Linked DNA regions of Homo sapiens. The protein of the gene in region 1 interacts with the protein of each later gene in a pairwise test. Each region holds a gene or a part of one and is shown in the gene's direction. Other genes may lie near its edges. The genes, in order: CAMTA2 and ZNF483.

Region 1 (3,818 bases):
CCACCACGCCCGGCTGGAACCTTTGTTATTAACCACCACTGATACTGGCTCTTTCTGGAGGAGGCACAGTCCTTGTGTTACACATTTTCTGTATTCTGCATACTTACTGCCTTGTATGTAGTTGGTTGTTGATATTTATCAATTTGATGTCAGAAGAGGACTGTCAGTAAAACGATGCGTGTATGTGTGTATGTGTGATTGTTGTAAGTGCTATAGAGCGTTTAGGAAGGTCCAGTGTGGTCAGCAGGGCTTCATGGAGCATCTGAAAAGGGGTTTGGTTTATAGAATGGCTATGATTTCCAGATATGGAGAGGTGTGCACATGGTACCTGCCTTGTAGGGCACTAACATGCAGGAGGTAACTATTCAAAGCATGTTCAGGAAGGAATCAATGGATCCATCTGGCAGGAATTGTAGGAGCAATATGGGTAAATAGTGGGAACAGTGAAAGTTTGATCCCTTGTTGGGAAGAACCTTGGAGTCAGGCTAAAGAATCTGAAACTCCTGCCAGGCACAGTGGCTCACGCCTGTAATCCCAGCACTTTGGGAGGCTGAGGCGGGTGGATCACGAGGTCGGGAGATCAAGACCATCCTAGCTAACACAGTGAAACCCCGTCTCTACTAAAAATACAAAAAATTAGCCGGGCGTGGTCGTGGGCGCCTGTAGTCCCAGCTACTCAGGAGGCTGAGGCAGGAGAATGGCATGAACCCAGGAGGAAGAGCTTGCAGTGAGCCGAGATGGCGCCACTGCACTCCAGCCTGGGTGACAGAGCGAGACTCTGTCTCAAAAAAATAAATAAATAAATAAATAATCTGAAATTCCTGGCAGTGTCAAACCACTGAAATTTTTTGAGTCAGGAAGGGGCACAGAGGCCAGGAGTGGTGGCTCATGCCTGTAATCCCAGCACTTTGAGAGGCTGAGGTAGGCGGATCACCAGAGGTCAGGAGTTCAAGACCAGCATGGCCAACATGGTGAAACCCCGTTTCTACTAAAAATACAAAAATTAGCTGGGCACGGTGGCAAGTGCCTGTAATCGCAGCTACTCTGGAGGCTGAGGTAAGAGAATTGCTTGATCCTGGGGGGCGGAGGTTGCAGTGAGCTGAGATCATGCCATTGCACTCCAGCCTGGGTGACAGAGTAAGATTCTGCCTCAAAAGAAAAAAAAAAAAGTCTGGGCACGGTGGCTCACGCCTGTAATCCCAGCACTTTGGGAGGCCAAGGCGGGTGGATCACCTGAGGTCAGGAGTTCGAGACCAGCCTTACCAACATGGTGAAATCCTGTCTCTACTAAAAAAAATACAAAATTACCCGGGCATGGTGGCGCATGCCTGTAATCCCAGCTACCCGGGAGGCTGAGGCAGGAGAATTGCTTGAACCCGGGAGGCAGAGGTTGCAGTGAGCTGAGATCGCGCCATTGCACTCCAGCCTGGGCAACAAGAGTGAAACTCCATCTCAAAAGAAAAAAAAAGGGGCACAGGAATGAGATTTTTGGAGAGTAAAATAATTCACAAAAAAATGTTAGACTTTTGTCTTAGGACAAAAGAAGGGTTCTTAGGAGGGCAGTGGGTCTTGCTGGGTCCAGATACCTAGAAGCATCCTCCACTAGCTGCCAGAACTCAGCAGAGAGTGAGACACTGACAGGATGACCAAGAGGCCAGGCTGAGACTCTCTGTGAAGGAGATGCCCAGCTGAGTGCCTCCTCTCCTACAGGAGATTGCATCCTACCTGATCACCTTTGAGAAGCATGATGAGTGGCTGTCTTGTGCCCCAAAGACAAGGTGAGAAAGTTTGAGAACATGGGGGAGTGGCAGGGGTCCTGGGTTCTGTTCACAGAACTCCAGGGCAACCCTTCCCTTCCCAGGCCTCAGAATGGCTCCATCATCCTCTACAATCGCAAGAAGGTGAAATATCGGAAGGATGGTTACCTCTGGAAGAAGCGGAAGGATGGGAAGACCACCCGAGAGGACCACATGAAGCTGAAGGTCCAGGGCATGGAGGTAAGAGAGTCAGATATTCAGCTCATCTTCCCGAGCCTGCCCTCCTCCACCCTTAGCTGGGCTCTAGCCCGACCTGGGCTTGGTGGCATTGTCCACCTCAGTCCCCTCCCAGTTACTCTTCCCTTCTCACTCACTTTGGGTCGGCTGACATTGCTTTGGCCACTCTCCACTTCCCATTTCCCTCCGTGACTCAACTATCCAGGCCGTAGGCCATGCCTCCCTTCCAGAACACTGATGCCCAGGCCCCTCACTGCTCTTGTGTTTCCCTCAGGGATCCCAGCAATGATGCTCTCAGCACAGGTTTCTCTTCCCCAAATCATTGCCCCTCATCTCAGATGCATTCTTGCTCTGCCCTCTGGTTTCTAGATAGTCCCGTATCTCAAATCTGGTCCTCACTATAAGGCCCCAGCCCCACTGCTCATCTATGACTCAGGGTGGCTGGGATTCAAAAGGGGTGGGGAATAGGTGGGGGCGAGGGTGGGGGAAGGGTTGAAGAGGAACTGGTGGAAAGATTGGGATTCCTGCAAAGGGACTGAACAGAGGAAGAGTTGGGGAGCAGACTAGCCCTCCCCCCACCCCAGCCTGTCTCCTGGCAGTGTCTCTATGGCTGCTACGTTCACTCTTCCATCGTCCCCACATTCCATCGGCGCTGCTACTGGCTGCTCCAGGTAAGGACGGAAGAGCCCAGGGAGCCACCCTCTTCCTGACTCTTTGAGGGACACGGGTCTGAAAGAAGGAAGTGAAAGGATGGCTGAGTTCTGAGTGAGGAAAGGAGCCTGGGAAGAAGAGAAAGGGGCTTGGGGATGGAGAGAGTCAGAAATTGGGGGCGAGGTTAGGAGGGTGCCCAGGAAGAAAGTGAGGATTAGGAAGCCAAGCCCCTGGACCTCAGGACCCCATGGCTCTGTGTGTCCCCTTATACTCTCAGAACCCTGACATCGTCCTTGTGCACTACCTGAACGTCCCAGCCCTGGAGGACTGTGGAAAGGGCTGCAGCCCCATCTTTTGTTCCATCAGCAGCGACCGTCGAGAGTGGCTGAAGTGGTCCCGGGAGGAGTTGTTGGGACAGCTGAAGCCCATGTGTAAGGCAGCAGGGTGGGGATAGAGCTCCAAGGGGAGAGTAGAAACAGGGCTCCCAGAGGGGCCATGGTTCTGGACCCAAAGCCTGAGGGCTGATCATCTCCCTCCAAGCTGGGAGGGTGCTAGGATTCCCGGTGTGTTCTCAGGTATTAGAATACGGAGAAAGGACTAAAGCAACATATCTGAGCAGTCTTGAGGCTGCTGGCCTCTGTTCACCTGGCCAGAAGTCTTGAAGCATGTCAGGTGCTTGGAGGAGCCATCAAGGTACTCTGGGGCCTGTTTCGTGGGGATCCCACAGCACTTCCCCCTAACTTCTCTAGTTCATGGCATCAAGTGGAGCTGCGGGAATGGAACAGAAGAGTTCTCTGTAGAACACCTGGTGCAGCAGATTTTGGACACCCACCCAACCAAGCCTGCTCCCCGAACCCACGCCTGTCTCTGCAGTGGGGGGCTTGGTAAGTTACTCCCTGACCTTTTGGCTGTCTTCCCACCTAGCCACACTGCTCTTACGCAAGCCAGGGGGATATCCATCTTGATGGGATTTGCATGCTGATTTGCAAGTCTTTTGCATGTCCCAGAAAGATGGGCCAGATGAACAGACGTTCCCATCTGGGTGCACACTGGCTCGGAATCAGCCTTGCACTCAGCTGTCATGGCAGCCTCTGCCCTTCCTGTCTTCTACCTTCAGCAATTCCTGTCCCCTCAGCACCACCAGTGACACCCAGCCTTAGCCTTCCTCCTAGT
Region 2 (3,818 bases), on another chromosome or scaffold:
TAGAGACGGGGTTTCACCATGTTGTCCAGGCTAGTCTTGAACTCCTGACCTCGTGATCGGCCTGCCTCGGCCTCCCAAAGTGCTGGGATTACAGGTATGAGCCACCACGCCCGGCTGCAGTGCAGTTCCAAAAAAGTTTAGGCAGGGCCAAACAGGAGTCCTTGCCATAGTTACCTATCAGAGGAGTCCTGTGTCTCAAAGAAATGGGCCTGTGTAAGTATCCTGTACTCCATCATTGACTGGGAGCAACTCGTGGGAATTTGTGTGAATGCAGTGTTGGATTCATAGAGCAGCAGCAGGGGTTGTCAGGTAATATCCCCGCAGGGGGAGGTGTGAGTGGTGCATTTTTATGGACACTAGAGGACGTATCGAAACAAGAGTGTTAACACTGATGCATACTATATCAAGCACATGTATAAGGAGCTGTGGGAATATACAGGAGCAAGGTTTTAATTCGCATTTGAGTTGAATCTTGAAGGATGAGTAGGAATTCATCCAGTGGACAGCATGCATAATAATTCCATTTTTGTTAAAGGGAAAAAATGTACATATAAATACATGCCTGAATACATAGAGTATATGGATTTTTAATATCTGGAAAACATTCATGTTAACACTGGTTATCTTTGAAGAATTAGGTTTTGTTTTGTTTTCTTGAGATGGAGTCTTGCTCTGTCACCAGGCTGGAGTGCAGTGGTGCAGTCTCAGCTCACTGCAACCTCTGCCTCCCAGGTTCAAGTGATTCTCTTGCCTCGGCCTCCCAAGTAGCTGGGACTACAAGCATGTGCCACCACGCCAAGCTAATTTTTTTTGTATTTTTAGTAGAGGCGGGGTTTCACCATATTGGCCAGGATGGTCTTGATCTCCTGACCTCGTGATCTTCCTACCTCGGCTTCCCGAAGTGCTAGGATGACAGGCATGAGCCACCGTGCCCGGCCAGGATTAGGTTTTTTTATACTTACCTATATCTTACAATTTATATATATTATTATTCTTTTTTTTTTTTTTGAGACAGAGTTACCCAGGCTGGAGTGCAGTGCCGTGATCTTGGCTCACTGCAACCTCTGCCTCCTGGGTTCAAGCAATTCTCTCCTGCCTCAGCCTCCCAACTAGCTGGGACTATAGGCACGCGCCACCACGCCCAGCTAATTTTTTTTGTATTTTTATTAGTAGAGATGGCGTTTCCCCATGGAAAGGAGGTGGATCACTCCTGACCTCAAGTGATCCACCCGCCTTGGCCTCTCAAAGTACTGGGATTACAGGCATGAGCCACTGTGCCCGGCCACAATTTATATATATATATTAAATTTACATTTAAAAAAATAAAAATAGGCCAAGCGTGGTGGCTCACACCTGTAATCCCAGCACTTTGGGAGGCTGAGGCAGGCAGATCATGAGGTCAGGAGATCAAGACCATCCTGACTAACACGGTGAAACCCCGTCTCTACTAAAAATACAAAAAAAAAAAATTAACCAGGCTTGGTGGTGGGCGCCTGTAATCCCAGCTACTCTGGAGGCTGAGGCAGGAGAATCGCTTGAACCTGGGAAGTGGAGCTTGCACTGAGCCGAGATGGCGCCACAGCACTCCAGCCTGGGCGACAGAGCGAGACTCCATCTCAAAAAATAAAAACAAAAGTAAGTTATTACATGTATCAATACCTTGGTTTATCTTAAAAGAAAGAAGCAATGATCCATCTTGCTCTATTCCATCTTCTCAAACATTTATTGTAGTCAACTTATTGGCTGTTTCCAGTATACAATTGACCCTTGAACAACAGGATTAGGGGCCACTGACCGCACCCCCCCCGCCCCCGTACAGTTGAAAATCCATGTATAACCGTTAACTCTCCAAAAACATAACTACTAATAGCCTACTGTTGACCTGAAGCCTTATTGATAACATAAACATAATTACATATGTTATGTGTTTTTTATACTGTATTCTAGTAAGCTAGAGAAAAATGCTATTAAGACAAGAAAGAAAATAACATTTACGGTACTGTACTGTGTGTATCGATCACTAAATTTATGTTGTTTGTCTGAAATGGCAGACAATTGCAGCTGCAGACCTCAGTCTATGGTACATATCAAGCAGTTCAGCTTTTTCTTGAAGTATCATGACTATTCTGTGCTTGTTGGGAGCACTTCCAGCATTACTAGCAGCACTTTGTATGGGTCCCATGATGTTATTCAAGATTTACAGTATTGCACTAAACACAGTGAAAAATAGGAGGGAACCGCAAGAGATCCATTTTTACGGTGATAGGCAATTTCCTGGAGACATAAACTGCTTATGTGGAGATGATTAGCATTACGTGGCTTTTTTTTTTTTGGAGACAGAGTCTCACTCTGTCACGCAGGCTGGAGTGCAATGGCGTGATGTCAGCTCACTGCAGCCTCCACCTCCTGGGTTCAAGTGATTCTGCTGCCTCAGCCCACCAAGTAGCTGTGATTACAGGCATGCACCACCATGCCCAGCTAAATTTTGTATTTTCAGTAGAGACGGGGTTTAACCATGTTGATCTCGAGCTCCTGACCTCAAGTGATCTTCCTGCCTTGGCTTCCTAAAGTGCTGGGTTTACAGGCGTGAGCCACAGCGCCTGGCCTACCTGGCATTTTAAGTGGATACTTAGAGCAGACATTTGAGCTCATTGCAATACCAACAAGAGGTGCCTATGAAATTATTACAGTGTATAGTATGTACTACAGTTTTATGCAGTTATTATTATTATTATTTTGTGACAGGGTCTTGCTCTGTCATTCAGGCTAGGGTGCAGTGGCATGATCACGGCTCACTACAGCCTCCACCTCCTGGGCTGAAGCGATCCTCTCACCTCAGCCTCTTGAGTAGCTGGTATTACAGGCACATGCCACCATGTTCAGCTAATTTTTGTATTTTTTGTAGAGAGAGAGTTTTGTCATGTTGTTCAGGCTGGTCTCCAACTCCTGGGCTCAAACAAACTGTTTGCCTTGGCCTCCCAAAGTGGTGGGATTATGGGGGTGAGCCAGTGCGCCTGGCCCAGTTATTATTTAATACTGTATCTTTACATTTGTTTACATTTCTCTTGACTGTGAATGACACCAAGTACGGCCTGTAAGTGTGTGTGTACGTTTTGATAAATTTTAACTTGATAATTTGTGTACATTTTATAGTAGTAAATGACAAAATAGACTAGTATCTATATATCTTAAAAATACATGACATACATTTTTGGGGTTGTTTTTTTTTTTGACATGTCTAGGCTACACAGTTTGTCTGCAAGTTTTTTCAAATTGTCACAAATCTCCAAAAATTTTTCTAACATGTTTATTGAAAAAAATCCACGGGCTGGGCATGGCGGCTCCCACCTGTAATCTCAACACTTTGGGAGGTCAAAGCAGGAAGACCACTTGAAGCCAGGAGTTTGAGACCAGCCTGGGCAGCATAGTGAGACCCTGTTTCTACAAAAAATTTAAACATCAGCCAGGCACAGTGGTGTGTGCCGTGGTGAGAGGATTGCTTGAGCCCAGGGGTTAGAGGTTGCAGTGAGCTATAATCATGCCACTGTACTCCAGCCTGGATGACAGAACAAGACCCCATCTCTTAGAAAAAAAAAAAAACCACCTGTAAGTGGACACTTGCAGTTCAAATCTGTGTTGTTCAAGGGTCAACTGTGATTACATAAATAAAGGACAACAGTTGTTTTATCATATTTAAGTAGCATTTTGGAGAGGAATTTAACAAATGGATTCTGAAAGTGTTTTGTGTAGTTCTAGCAGCACTGGTATAAATATATGTCCCTTCCCCAATTATCTTACATAAAAGAAAATGCCTCATG

What was found.
Region 2: the proteins of CAMTA2 (region 1) and ZNF483 interact in a two-hybrid assay, tested with the Homo sapiens proteins (one large-scale study listed by BioGRID).

Annotation. Positions count from the first base shown.
Region 1 is NC_000017.11:4,980,936-4,984,753, reverse strand, and holds part of CAMTA2 (calmodulin-binding transcription activator 2), read left to right. Parts: intron 1-1,710; coding exon 1,711-1,778; intron 1,779-1,861; coding exon 1,862-1,997; intron 1,998-2,578; coding exon of another isoform or gene 2,579-2,593; coding exon 2,594-2,665; intron 2,666-2,922; coding exon 2,923-3,076; intron 3,077-3,394; coding exon 3,395-3,529; intron 3,530-3,818. UniProt on the Homo sapiens protein: Transcription activator. May act as tumor suppressor.
Region 2 is NC_000009.12:111,534,907-111,538,724, forward strand, and holds part of ZNF483 (zinc finger protein 483), read left to right. Parts: intron 1-3,818. UniProt on the Homo sapiens protein: May be involved in transcriptional regulation.